Linked DNA regions of Homo sapiens. Changing the gene in region 2 together with the main gene of any one other region gives a genetic interaction. Each region holds a gene or a part of one and is shown on either strand. Other genes may lie near its edges.

Evidence for each region.
Region 1: changes in PAXBP1 (region 2) and METAP2 together harm fitness more than expected from each alone (negative genetic interaction), as found in Homo sapiens cells (one large-scale study listed by BioGRID).

What each region holds. Positions count from the first base shown.
Region 1 is NC_000012.12:95,480,591-95,484,160, forward strand, and holds part of METAP2 (methionine aminopeptidase 2), read left to right. Parts: intron 1-2,624; coding exon 2,625-2,690; intron 2,691-3,570. UniProt on the Homo sapiens protein: Cotranslationally removes the N-terminal methionine from nascent proteins. The N-terminal methionine is often cleaved when the second residue in the primary sequence is small and uncharged (Met-Ala-, Cys, Gly, Pro, Ser, Thr, or Val).
Region 2 is NC_000021.9:32,747,734-32,751,303, forward strand, and holds part of PAXBP1 (PAX3- and PAX7-binding protein 1), read right to left. Parts: exon of another isoform or gene 3,521-3,570; intron 3,486-3,520; coding exon 3,386-3,485; intron 3,300-3,385; coding exon 3,184-3,299; intron 966-3,183; coding exon 766-965; intron 516-765; coding exon of another isoform or gene 480-515; exon of another isoform or gene 1-479. UniProt on the Homo sapiens protein: Adapter protein linking the transcription factors PAX3 and PAX7 to the histone methylation machinery and involved in myogenesis.

The sequences.
Region 1 (3,570 bases), on a different chromosome or scaffold from region 2:
TAATATGCACTTCCCTAATGATATTGAGCATCTTTTCATGTTTTTATTTGCTTTTTCCTTTATCTTTGGTAAAGTGTTTGTTCACATTTTTTGTCCATGTTTTATTGGGTTATTTGTCATCCTATTGAATTGTAATAGTTCATTGTATATTCTGGTTGCAAGTTCTTTATCAGATAATATGTTTTACAGATATTTCTATGGGATGGCTATTCACCTGGTTAATGGTATTGCTTATAGGACAGTTTTAATTTTGATAAAGTCCAATCTATCTGTTTTTTAAATTTATGGGTAGTGCTTTTTGTGTCCTGTCTAAAAAGTTAAGTCATTGCTGTCTCTAAGGTCACAAAGATGTTCTGTGTTCTCTTCAAGAAGTTTTATATATTTTTAGCTGTTATGTTTAGGTCTATGGTTCATTTAGAATTAATGTTTCTAGATAGTGCAAGGCAGAGCTTAAAAGCTTGAGACTCTTTTTTTTAAAATATGATTTCCAGTTGTCATTCAACAGATATCAACTGATTTGGGCATAGTAGTAACACAAATAAACATAAGCAGCCTCTGCTGGCCAGGCCTGGTGGCTCATGCCTATAATCCCAGCACTTTGGGAGGCTGAGATGCGATTCGAGACCAGTCTGGGCAACTTAGACCTTGTCTCTGCAAAAGATTAAAAAACATTAGCCAGGTATAGTGGTGCGTGCCTGTAGTCTCAGCTATTCAGGAAGCTGAGGTGGGAGGATTTCCTGAGTCTGGGAGATTGAGGCTGCAGTGAGCTGTGATCCTGCCACTGCACTCCAGCTTGGGCAACAGAGTGAGACCCTGTCACAGAAAAACCAAAAAAACCAACCATCTCTGCCTATGAAGAATATGCTGGGATACTGTGAAGAAAAGACATGTAAAAGCACAAATTTCAACATGGTATAATGGTTGGAACTATAAACATATATAGATTAATACTCAGATCCTGGCTCTGCTGCCATCCTGGCACAAAGTTCTATAAATGGTGGCTGTTTTTCTGTACTGAATACAGACATTGGACATTGAATAAGGTAATTAGCCTCAAAAGGATGAAAGTATCAAAGAAGGACCTTTTTGTTCCATTTTAAAGATGAAGAAACCAGGGTAGAGGGAGGCTAAATAACTTGCCCAAGGTCACCCAGATGGAAAGATTTTTAGTATATGTTTAAAATTGGTGATGTATCTTCAAGTATTTGTTTTAGGTTGTGCTACATACACTAGGTATAGTGCTACATACACTAGTCACAACCTAAAACAAATACTTCAAGATTCATAACCAGTTTTAGTCTGGAAAAAACTATTGTTTCTCCAGAACAGAAACTATCTTATTTTTCTGTCCCTATTGCCTGGCACTTAAGAGCCCAACAAACATTTAATGGGGTGAAGAAGGTTACTGTTAACGTTACAGTGCACGATATGTGAATTAGATTATAATTTTTCGTGTGCCTTTTGTTAGGCTTTTGAATCTAAAAATCCATAATGAATAAGTCAGCAATATTTGTGTTTTGGGTTTGTTGTTGTTAGGATACAAGATCTCCCTCCCGTCACCCAGGCTGACGTGCTGTGGCTCGATCTCAGCTCACTGCAGCCTTGACTTCCCTGGCTCAGGTGATCCTCCCACATCTCAGCTTTCCAAGTAACTGGGACTATGGGCGCATACCACCACACCTGGATAATTTTTTGTACTTTTAGTAGAGACAGGGTTTCACCATGTCCTCCAGACTGGTCTCAAACTCCTGGGCTCAAGTGATCCACCTGCCTCAGCCTCCCAAAGTGCTAGGATTACAGGTGTGAACCACTTTACCTAGCCTAATATTTGTACTTCTACTGTTCTCTTCTGCCTGCTAGGTTTTTGATAATTTCATAAGATTGAACATAAGAAATGGTGATTTTGAGGCTGGGTACAGTGGCTCACGCCTATAATCCCAGGACTTGGGAGGCCAAGGCTGGCAAATCACTTGATGTCAGGAGTTCGAGACCAGCCTGGTCAACATGGCGAAACTCCATCTCTACTAAAAAAAAAAAAAAAAAAAATTAGATGGGCATGGTGGCATGCACCTGTAATCCCAGATACTTGGGAGGTGGAGGCTGAGACATGAGAATCACTCAAACCTGGGAGGCGGAGGTTGCAGTGAGCTGAGATTGCGCCATTGCACTCCAGCCTGGGCAACAGAGCTAGACCCTGTTTCAAAAAAAGAAAGAAAAGAAGTGGCAATTTTGACCAAAAATGGTCAAGTATTGGCATTTTCATATGGTTCAACCCACGTAAGTCCTAGATCACGTTACCTCCCACTTTGCTAAACTGCTGCTTCCTGTTTCTAAATTTTTTAGTGTTGGAGTCTCACTATGTTGCCCAAGCTGGATTCCAACTCCTTGGCTCAAGTGATCCTCCCACCTCAGCTTCCCTAGTAGCTGGGACTATAGGCATGTGCCACCACACCTGGTAGCTGCTTCCTATTTCTTATTTCAGTGAAAGAATAAATGTAAACAAGATAAAATAAACTAACGTTTGTTCATTTATTGAATAGAGCAAATACTTGTCTCCTTGTACTTGCTTTGTCCCTCTGCTTATGAGGTTTAAATGAACATGTACTTGAAATGTCTTTTCTTAGATGGAGATGGCGATGGAGATGGAGCAACTGGAAAGAAGAAGAAAAAGAAGAAGAAGAAGAGAGGACGTTAGTGTCTTAAGTTAATGTTAATTGATATATTAGAAGTGTTTATTCTGTCGGGTGTGGTGGCTCACACCTGTGATCCCAGCTACTCCGGAGGCTGAGGCAGGAGAATTGCTGGAACCCAAGAGACGGAGATTGCAGTAAGCTGAGATTGTGCCACTGCACTGCAGCCTGGGCAACAGAGTGAGACTCTGTCTCAAAAAAAAAAAAAAAAAAAAAAAGAAGTGGTTATTCACTGACAGGTTTGAAGAGTAGGTTTGAAGTTGCTTAAGGTCCTGATATATGTTAGGGAAATAAACTTAGGCTTAATAGAAGCAGAATTTAGTGAAACTAATAATTATTTATTAGTTTAATAACTTTGGTTTAACAATCCTTTATTTTCTTTAGCTGTTAGCTAAGGGATGTCGATATGAATTGGTTGCATTTTACTGCAAGTTAGGGATGAGTTTCTAAAAATTTTATGATTTAAAACTTGCATAATTTAAAGAATAATTCTGTCAAGAATGGCCGAAGTGGTGCCATGGTGGTGGTAGGGTAAGCGTTGTTTGTAATTTACCTTCCAGCTTTTAAATTATGAGATTCTTGATGAGTATTTAATGAGGAATCCCGTTATTTAAGATGTGTGCATATGGTGAGACTTTATTATTAATAATAACTTTTATATTGTACGATCAGATTTGTATAAAATATCCTGCTTGTTTTGAGTTTCTGTAAGTGCCACAACCAAACATCATCAGGTGCCCGAAAATATATTAAGGAGGCTGAAGGGAGATTTCGTAGTGTTGAGGAAGAAAGGTTGGGTTGAGAATCACAACATGTAAGTTTTAATCTTGGATGCCATTTGGGCTGTTGTAGACCACTGAATGTCTGGTTATGCCTTCCT
Region 2 (3,570 bases):
CTAGCCCCCTCCCTTATATGACAGGCCAATAGGTCCTCTTGATTCCACCTCCTTATCTTTTTTTTTTTTTCTTGTGGCAGGTCTTGTTCTATCACCCAGGCTGCAGTGCAGTGGCACAATCATAGCTCATTACAGCCTTGATCTCCCGGGCTCAAGCAATCCTGCCTCAGCCCCCGAAGTAGCTAGGAATATGAGCACATGCCACCACAGCTAATTTTTTTTTTTTTTTTTTAAGTAGAGACAAGGTCTTGCTATGTTGCCCAGGCTGGTCTTGAACTCCTGAGCTCAAACAATCCTCCCGCCTTGGCCTCCCAAACTGTTGGGATTACAAGCATGAGCCACCATGCCTGGCCTATCAATTTTTCTCACCATGACAACTGACTTGGGTCATGTCCTCATTTCACACCTGCCTCATTGTGCTTTCCCATCTGGTTCTGAGTTCCTCTAGGATCAAAGGACCAAGTTCTTACTATTCATGTTCATATCCCAGTGTTACTGCATATAATTTCAGCTGGCTGAAAAAAGGATTATATGTAAACTGAAAAAACAACAACAACAACAAAAAAAACACATAGCTCTGCTGGGAAGACATGAAACTTAAAAGGAAAGATCATAAGATTATAACCAGATACAATCTATCAATTATAGCCTATGCCCTATCACCCCTGCAAAATATTTTGCTTAAGCTTACATCTCTAGCTTTGAGATTAAAATTACCCAGATATCAAATTATAACACTTTCTAATAGTGACAGAAGCCACTCACCTCAAGAGGAGTCCAAGTGAGGAGCTGAAGTCGTATGAGGGGGTTGAATAATTTTGGCAAACAAAGGCCAATGTAAGCATCTTTGTAGGATGTGTAGTATTTTGAACGCCATGCTTCAAACTGTGATTTAATACAGTCAATTGAATAGAAACTTTCAAGGACATCTTCAAAAACTTTGCCGGATTCTTTTGAAATTCGATCTAAAAACAACAAAACCCCACAGAGAACCATACATTAGTATGAAGTAGGAAAAAAACAGTCCAATATTTTCAGTGTTTTCTTTGTAGCTTCAGTATCAGAAGATACGCTCATTAACAAAGGGCCAATTGTTAGTCACAATTTAGAAGAAAAAAATAAATTGAAGTTTCAATTTGTCTATTATGTAAACTAAAGTGCAGCCAGTCCTTGTTTTGCAGTTCCAGTATATACAATTTTTCTACCACAGTTTGGCTAAATAAAACCTGTTCCCAAACAAGATGGTTCAAATTTCAGTTACTACGGTGTATTAGCCATAAGTAATTGTGCCGCTAGCTTTTTAGTTCACAGATCACTGCACAGATTAACAGCTGTGCATCATAATCAGTCACTAATCACATTGCTTCATTCAAACTCTGTTGGTGATTATAATAACTGACATAGCCAACTATCAGCTGAATGGATGCTAGGAACTTTAAGTGAAAAGTTATTTGCGAATAAGATTTTTTTTTTTTTTTTGAGACAGATTCTCACTCTGTCACCCAGGCTGGAGTGAAGTGGTGCGATCTCAGCTCACTGCAATCTCTGCCTCCCAGGTTCAAGTGATTCTCCTGCCTCAGCCTCCTGAGTAGCTGGGATTACAGGTATGCGCCACCATGCCCAACTAATTTTTGTATTTTTAGTAGAGATGGAGTTTCATCATGTGAGCCAGGCTGGTCTCGAATTCCTGACTTCAAGTGGTCCGCTGCCTCGGCCTCCCAAAGTGCTGGGATTACAGGTGTGAGCCACTGTGCCCAACCAAGAATAAGATACTCTTATGATGTCCCAGATTACTTGGGAAAAGGAAATATTTACAATGGAGAGATAAAGTTCTGAGAACCTTTACTGCAAGATCAATCTTAACATTGCTAATAGTGGGGACAGTCTAACATTTGTCATGTGCTTTTAAGCAGTATGAAACAGCATCCTGTATAAATTATTCTTGGGGAAGAAAAAAAAAAAGTTTAACTTAAATCTAATTAAGCCTTCAGACCTAAATTCCAGTTTACAAGAAATGGATCAAAGAACAAGTTAAACAATGCTATGAGGAAACATACAGACCAGTCTAGAATATAGGACAGTCTATAAGAGAAGTGGCCTGGTCTCTTCAAAAATTTAAAGAACAATAGGGGTGGGTGTGTGAATGTGTACTTAGGGTTACTCATTTATTCCAGATTTAAAAATGTCATAACCAAATGCAGAGCATGAACCTTAGGTGGATCCTGGTTTCAAAAACCACAAAATAACCCATAAAAATAGTTCCTAAAAAGGGTTTTTCCAGGATGCCATTGAGAAAAATTATATATGGACATGATATTAAGAAATCTGTTTTCTTATTGTGCTAAAAAAAGAAATACTTAATCAGAATAGGCATCTAACAAAAAGAAAAAAGATAATAATACTGTGATTATACAGAAAAATATACTCATTTAGAGGAAACACACTCTGAAATTTTGGGGAGTGAAGAGCCATGAGGTCTGTAAGTTACTTTCAAATGGTTCAGCAAACACACACATCTCCTTGTATAAAGAGCCAGGCAAACTTGGTGAAATCATAAGCATTGTTATCTGAGTGATAGGTATGTGGATGATCACTGTGCTAGTCTTTCAAATTTTGTTTAGAAATGTTCACTGTAAAAAAAGTAAGAGAAAGAAGCTTCTCCAACTAAGTTCCAAATGGTGTGCAATTGATATAATTCCAAACAATTATAGCCAATGGTGGGAAATGAAGACTTTTATTTGGGATCCTTCTGAAAATGCCTGGCACATAATAGTACTAACCATTCCTCTAAGGTGAGATTACTTATGACTCCCCAAATCAAGAGTTTCCTTCAGGGCTGAGTGCTCTACTGCCAAGCTTTACCTTTCCAGACCAGACAGGCTGCAATGAGAGCTGCCCTCAAGGACCTGACACATTTCCAGTCACTTAAAATTCTACCATTTGGAACAGTAACAACATTTATTATGCAAATACTAAGTACACCCTATGAGAAGATGTTACCCCTATTTTTGAGAATTCATCATGATATTCACTAATAAAAAGGCATGCAAATTTCTGCAATTAAAAAAGAAGTGTCTGGTTCTAATGCAGAGACCATGAAGATTCAAATCATTTCATGGTAAAAACCATACCCAAGTAGAAACTAAACTGATGATGAGTCTTATTTCCAAATAAATGTCTAACCTTTTTCCAGATTGAAATTAGTAATATCTGTAGAAGTTTCTTCATCATCACTGGAAAGGCCTTCAAGGTGATCTGCCATCTTACCGGTTTGTTCTCTGGCTTGTCTACGACGAGTCCTAAATAATAAACATCAAGTTCCCAAACTAGATAACAGAGACTCCTCCCTTCCCAAACAAGCCAGAGCAAGGGTTTTGAGAATTACCTCCTGGCCTCCCGCTCTGCAATGCGACGTTTTGCATGCTCTTGATACAGTGCCCGATCGCGTCCAAAGGAGTCAAGATTTGGTGCCATCAGAGCTTTGTCTGCAAAACAACAACAGTTAAAATTAAAAGCCATCTTTCAACAATCTTGAGGAAAGAGTTTGCACAGAATAAGCCATTACGACAG